Linked DNA regions of Homo sapiens. The protein of the gene in region 1 purifies or fractionates together with the protein of each later gene. This does not show direct contact. Each region holds a gene or a part of one and is shown on either strand. Other genes may lie near its edges. The genes, in order: CBLL1 and ACSL4.

Region 1 (3,824 bases):
CTTTCAAATAATGTCACAAAACCCAGAAGTCATAAAAGCAAAGACCGGATATCTGACTATATAGAATCTTCAAGATTCTCTGCAATAACTATAATCCCAGCACTTTGGGAGGCCGATGCGGGCGGATCATGAGGTCAGGAGATCGAGACCATCCTGGCTAACACAGTGAAACCCCGTCTCCACTAAAAATACAAAAATTAGCTGGGCGTGGTGGCGGGCACCTGTAGTCCCAGCTACTCGGGAGGCTGAGGCAGGAGAATGGCATGAACCTGGGAGGCAGAGCTTGCAGTGAGCCGAGATCCCGCCACTGCACTCCAGCCTGGGTGACAGCGCAAGACTCTGTCTCAAAAAAAAAAAGATTCTCTGCAATAAATATTTTGTATACAAAATTCAAAAGACAAATGAAGAATATATACAATATAGGCCAGGCACAGTGGCTCACGCCTGTAATCCCAGCACCTTGGGAGGCTAAGGCAAGAGGACTGTTGAGTCCAGGAGTTCAAAACCAGCCTGGGCAACATAGCAAGACCCCATGACTACAAAAATTAAATATAAAAAATTAGCCAGGCAGGTGGGGTGCACCTGTAGTCCCAGCTCCTCAGGAGACTGAGGTGGAAAGATCACTTGAGCCTGGAATATCAAGCCATGATCCCACCACTGCATTCCAGCCCAGGCAACAGAGTAAGACTCAGTCTCAAAAAAACAAAAACAAACAAACAAACAAACAAAAAAATATATATACACACACGCACATACATAACATATAACAAAAACCCTATTAATTTACAAAGAACTCAGAAGAAAGGATCTAAACAAGAATGGTCAATGCTATGAAAAAATATACACTCTTTCATAATTAAAATAAATTTACATCAAAACAAAAATTTTAAAAGGTTTCTAGTACTCAGTATTGGTGTATGGCAGTAAAAACTAACATACCTTTTTATTATTATTTTTTTAATTCCAAAGCCTTTAAAACTACAAATTTGGATATTTTAAAACTTGACAGATACTGTGGATTTTAGAGTTTGACAAGTACTGTCAAATTGCTCTTAAAAAAAAAAAAAAGGCCAAATCTGTGCAAAGTACAAATTCTACAAAGTATACATACTAAACTGTATGTCCAAGAATATTTGGTGCAATGTTTTTTGTAACAGAAAAAACTGGAAAAACTGTTAAATAAATTATGGTATATCTATAAATACCCAAACCTATTTTTTTAATGAGGTACATCTGTAAGTACTGATAAGAAAAAAATCTCAAATGCATATTACATGAAAAAATGGCAACTACACATAAAAAATTAATACTTTTGTATAAAAAAGTCAACAGGGATTATCTTTGGATAGAAGGATTTTACTTTTAATGTTATGCTTTCTGCAATACTGTTGAGATTACTGAACAATGGGCAGTATTGCTTTCAACAACAAAAGGAACCAAATCAAAAAATATTTATAAAGGAAAATAAAAATACAATGTGCTACAATGAGAAGTCAAACAAGAAGGTTGAAGAATGAATAGAATATGTAAGACAAAAAGAGGTAGCTATAAGATCACACAGACTGTCCGAAGCAATCAGATAAAACAGAAAGAGTGTTGGACCTATTAGTTAAACAAATTACCTTCATCACCAGGTGGAGCCTTTGCAGGCATCCTGTTTATAGTTCTTTGAGTTCGCGGTGCAGGTTTCGCTTTGTTTGCTTGTTTGGAGATGAGCTTTATAGGAATTCGTCTGCGAACATCAAGACCACCCAAGGATCCAGAACTATTAGTGCCTTGTAACTCATTGTCTGTGTTAGGAAAAAAAAGTTGTAATTTCTTTTAGTTTTTCTTTTTAAAGATTATTCTGCCACAGGTATTAAAACACCATACCTAACATTATCAAGGTTAAAGATCTGGGTTCTGATTTTCAATATTACATTAAGTTTAACTGCTAATTTTATTTATTTTGGATCAACACTTAAGGCAATGCTTTTTAACCCCTTTTGAGATACAGAATCCTTTAAGAAATTGATAAAAGTTATAGGACCTCTCCCTAGAAAAGTGAATAAAATTTTTCATATAATTCCAGAGAAGTTTACAGAAACATGAAACCATTAATGAACCCAAGAACCATTGTCTTGAACTACAAGAGAATTTTTTAAAAGAAAAAGAGTAAGAAGGAGAAAAAGAACGAAAACCATCCCTGTCTCCATGTCTGATCATCAAGCATGCAAAGCAGAAAATAAATTTAGTAAACTGAACTTACTAATACTGATGAAGGCAAAATTAAACAATGCGTTTGAAAATGAAGTTAAGAAATGTGATTATTCCTTAAGCGCAAAATAATTATTCTAAAAATCATTCAGAAATATAGTAAAAATCATTATACCATTTAGTAGTAAAAACATGCAATAATGTATTTGTGCTATAACATGTGACTGAGTTCTTAGTCAGCACTGTAATGGAAAATTATAATTTAAGAGGATGCAAAGTTCCTATACTACAACTAGGTCTAAACAAGTGTCACTTTCTAGTCCCTGGAGTCTTTGCTTGTTATTGTCTATAGAATAAATTAATTCTTGTCCCATGAGTAACAGGAGTATTATTTCATAGAACTGACTCCATCTAAAGCTTAAGAGTTACCTTTTTTCAAGTAGATGAAAATATATAATACAGAAAATATTTAACTTGACCTACTAAAGAAGGAAAATGCTTAAAATAGGAAATACAAATAACGTATTTTTTAATTTGTAGTGTTTTAAACATGACAAGTTATTGAACAAGGTTGTATAACTGCCCCTGCAGGAAATATTACAGTCAAGACTGATAGCCAAACCATCCACATTAAATTCAGCAAAGCCAAATTTGGAAGTAGTAAGCTAGTACCAATGGCCTCCAAGGCTACTAGGATTACAGACACACAATAAGTTCACATTCATTTGCACTTTTTCTGAACAAAATACCAAACAAAATTAAAAATGGGTCCATAACGATTATTTTAATCTACTTACTACTCTTATAACAGCTAATCCTAAAACAAAGAGGGGTGGAATTACATGGTTAGCTAGAATCTTGAGTTAGGGTTAACCCAACTTGATCAGCTTTCAACACTTCATTAAATAGACTCACAAGCTGATTAATGTATTTGATCTGTTTTCATTGTAGTTGCTTATGTATGTAAAAGTACTTACAAGCAATGCATTGGCCAAAAGAAATATGAATGACTTTTTTCCTTGCTCAAAAAGTATTCCTGACATTCCAATGAACTAAAAAGCAAGTCGTTGTAGACATATAATCAGTTCAATGCTGTCCCTCAAATATTAAATATTCAAATATCAAAATGGTTTAATCGTTTTACCTTTGTGAATAATGAAAATACCAACACTTCATTACAAGTCCTTTTCACACCATCCTGAACACTTGAGGTCTCTACTGTTGCTTGCATAGTCTACCACTTTCAAGAGCTGGCTGGCCCTTCCCACTCTGCTTCACAGATTCAAGTTCATGAGGTACAGCATTTAATAATGATAACATTCTGGGTTTCTTTGGGACTTTTTTGCTTTTTGTTGTTTTTAAATTAAGAATCAGAGCATAAAGCACTATTTCCTTTTGAATACAGTAACAAATTATAAAGTCCTTAACAACAAAAATTTCTTAGATATTACATAGAAAGTGACTAAGGACTACTGGCCACTTCAGATAAATTCACTTTAAAAAGGCACAACACTTCCATATCATATAGTTTAAAAAAGATTGGGGATTTTTTATCTTGAATAAAAAGAACCAATAAATATTTTACAAAATCTGGGATCTTTTACAAAATCTGGGATACAGTTACAGAA
Region 2 (3,824 bases), on another chromosome or scaffold:
GATTTAAGCTGGACCTTATGTTGGGCATCTAGAAATGAAAGAGGAATGGAAGGTATTCCAGGCTCAGGGACCATATGAAAAAAGATACGAAGGTGGGAATGAAAGGACTTTGGGAGAATAGGAAGTACCAATAGCAAGGACACTAGTCTGACTGGGGCACAGCATACACTAAATACGCTAAATACGCTTGACTAAATACGCTACGGTAGTTACAAAATCTAACAAATCAGGCAAAGTAATTTTGATTGGATTATGTGGAAAGCTGGGGGCTGCTGCAGGTTAGAAAAACAGTGCCATTGGAAAGAAACCGCAGAAACAGGCTCAAGAATAGTAATATTTCTTTTCTTTCTTTTTTTTTTTTTTTTTTTTTTGAGACAAGGTCTCACTTTGTCACACGGGCCAGAGTGCAGTGGCATGATCTCAGCTCACTGCAACCTCTGCCTCCCGGACTCAAAAGATCCTCCCACCTCAGCCTCCCGAGTAGCTGGGAACACAGATGTGCATCACCATGCCTGGCTAGTTTTTTTCCATTTTTTGTAGAGACGGGGTTTTGCCATTGTTGCTCAGGCTGTTCTCAAAATCCTGGACTCAAGCTATCTGCCCTCAATGGCCTCCCAAAGTGCTGGGATTACAGGCGGGGGCCACCACACCCGGCCCAAGAATAGGAACATTTTTTAAGGAGCTTACCTTCAACTGAGAAAGCTACTTCGGTGAGTTGTAGCATATTTCAACCAGAAAAATCAAAATATTAGTTCACTTTGAAGAGACAAACTGAAGCCCATCCTTCTGCAACTTTTGTAGAAACAGACTGACAGACTTAATTCAATTGACCCCAGGCTAGTTGATTGTTTTTATACCATCTAATATAAAATGGTAGCTTAATCCTGCCTGTGCCTTTGTTCATGTAATTTAGTTGAGTACAGTGAAATGAGAAAGAAACTGGAAGTCACTGGGTGTCAATCCTCATCTCTGCCCCTAACTGGCTGTGTAACCTTGAGCAAACCATCTACCTCAGTCTGGGACCACACTAGATCAGCAGGCCTTAACCTCTTAGAGATGATGGGCCTTTTTGAGAATGAGAACGAGGAACCCAATTCCCCTCAGAAAGACATGCTAAATGATACACACAATGTCAAGTGATTCACAAGTTCCTTGAAATCCATCCATGAACTTCAAAGGGCAACAACCCTGAACTAAAAATGTCTGGCCTAGGTGATTCTTAGGGCCTTTCCAGCTTTAAATTCTATGACTTACCCTACTTGGAAAGTACCTTCTTAGTCTCTCGGACAAGTCTGGTCATTCATTTCTTCAAGATAAGGTATGTCATGTCAAGGGTTTATCATAATGCTGAATGTAAGATCCCCTCTAACAATCCTCTCCTCCCACTGAAGATTTCATGGCTACCCAAGTCCAGAACAATCTTTACTTTTTCTAATTTCACACATCATTAGCAATATCTACCACTCAATCTGATACATGATTATACTACCATCACTTCCAAACTTCTGGGTACCACAGTATAGAACACGGACCAGTAGTTCTCAACCATATCAAACCCAGTACCTCTTTCTTATGACAAATATTTTGTGATACCTCTTCATCAACATCAAAGGATAGTCATAATCTACCAACACACCATTTTAAAAAATGATTTCTTACTGGTAATATAAAAGAGTACCATAAAGAAACTAATTTAAAATTTAACAAAATACTTGTTTCAATACATACATTCTCAGAGACAATATTAGCAGACATAAAAGCATGTCTTCAGATTTATAAAATGCCCCTAAGGGGTGAGTACCACCTTACCCTCAATTGAGAAATCTTCAGGCTTAAGGCTGAAAATATATAAAGAAACAGAAAATAGCTTTTGAAGAGCCTGTACTTTAGTTGGATTTAAAATGCATTGTATGTTTTTTAGTTATTGATGTTACATAAATTTAATCTTTTATACATATTTGCCTTAAGTCTTAGAGAAAGAGAAATGCTTTCTAGGTAATCCTCATAGTGCTTAGTACAGACACACACACACGCATGCACACACACACACACACACACACACACACAGTAGGCAAGGCTCAAAGAACATTCAGGTGAGAAGAAACCAGAGAGATCATTTAGTCTAGAGGTTTTCAAATTCTTTCTGCAGGTAGTGAGGGGGTCATGGGTCATCCATTTGAATAAAATCTTATATAGATATAAAAACACAAGCGTAGATGAAAGCAAAAAGCATAGCTGCTCTGGTAGAGGAGGCTATGACAGCCCCTGAAGGGACTCCTTGGAACTTCCAGTTCAGCTGAATATTTGAACCACTGATATTGTCTGAGCCCTCATCTTACAGAGAAGCAAATGAATGGCAGAGCACAAATCGAGCACCCAGTGCTCTTTCAAGTACACTAGCCAGCCTCTGCCCAGTTTTGCCTATCATCTTAAACTATAATACTTCCTTGTCAGGGGTTATACTCAGTCTATTGATAAATTCATTTCAAAAAAGATTTAAACATTTCATTTCACTTCAAAAAAAGAAGAGTTGGTGGTAAGGGTATGATGCTGAGCATCGTACCCATCATTAGGCAAAATATAATGTCTCATAAGAGAAACAACAAAAATTTTCTAGGCTAACAGATCTGGGTTTAAAATGTGGTTCTATGCAGCCATAAAAAACAATGAGTTCATGTCCTTTGCATGGAGATGGATGAAGCTGGAAACCATCATTCTCAGCAAACTAACACAGGAACAGAAAACTTAACACTGCATGTTCTTACTCACAAGTGGAAGTTGAACAATGAGAAAACATGGACACAGGGAGGGTTACATCACACACAGGGGCCTGTCAGGGGATGGAGGGCTAGGGGAGGGATAGCATTAGGAGAAATACCTAACGTAGATGATGGGTTGATGGGTGCAGCAAACCACCATGGCACGTGTATACCTATGTAACAAACCTGCACGTTCTGCACATGTATCCCAGAATTTAAAGTATGATTTAAAAAAGAAAGCTCTATATTAGTGGCTTCATCTGTAAAACAGGAATACTGCTTATATTACCTACTTTATAGTGCTTTTGTGAGAAACCTTTGTCTTCTTCCTCTTAAATTCCATAGGCAATCATACTCAGTCCCTCTTGGTTGTCTCACTTGGTTGTACTTAATCATCTCAACCACAGCCTGGTTCTATCCTATCCAATTCTCCACCTAATCTGTACCTGTACCTATGCAGCTGAATTTGCTGTGAGAAACACATGACTGTGTTGAGTGTCTCACTTTAAACTTGTGATTGCTACCTCAAATGGACTCTCCCTGATGCAGAGAGACCACACCGCACTAGTCCACTCACTGGCCCACTCCTCTGGATTTCATACTTTACTCTCTTCAGACCACCAACATTCCTCATCCAGACTTATTCTCAGCAGCTGACCTATTTTGCAGACAAAACAGCAACAATCCAAAGATAATTTCCACAGACTCTCACTGCTACATCTACCCACCTAATCAAATCTGTGGCCACATGCTGTTTTCTCTCCTGTGACTATGGATGAACTGTTGATGCTCCAAGCTGAGGCCAACCCCTTCATTTATGCATTACACCCTGTCTTTATAAGGACACGGAAGTGCTACTCTACCAATTCTTCCCTCTCGTCCTTCCTCATTAATTTTCCCTGCTCTTCTGAACTATTCCCTTCAGCATCATAACCAGCTGTTATTTCTTTCATCTTAAAAAACATTCCCTCCTTTGCATCTTCTTTTCAGCTATAGCCCATTTATTTTCTATCTCTTTGGCACTCCTTGAAAGAGGTGTCTATGGCTCTCTGTCTCCCAGTTCTC

Evidence for each region.
Region 2: the proteins of CBLL1 (region 1) and ACSL4 purify together in Homo sapiens (affinity purification with western blotting; one study listed by BioGRID). This does not show direct contact.

The regions. Positions count from the first base shown.
Region 1 is NC_000007.14:107,746,846-107,750,669, reverse strand, and holds part of CBLL1 (E3 ubiquitin-protein ligase Hakai), read right to left. Parts: exon of another isoform or gene 3,174-3,824; intron 1,791-3,173; coding exon 1,623-1,790; intron 1-1,622. UniProt on the Homo sapiens protein: E3 ubiquitin-protein ligase that mediates ubiquitination of several tyrosine-phosphorylated Src substrates, including CDH1, CTTN and DOK1. Targets CDH1 for endocytosis and degradation.
Region 2 is NC_000023.11:109,684,740-109,688,563, forward strand, and holds part of ACSL4 (long-chain-fatty-acid--CoA ligase 4), read right to left. Parts: intron 706-3,824; exon of another isoform or gene 688-705; intron 1-687. UniProt on the Homo sapiens protein: Catalyzes the conversion of long-chain fatty acids to their active form acyl-CoA for both synthesis of cellular lipids, and degradation via beta-oxidation. Preferentially activates arachidonate and eicosapentaenoate as substrates.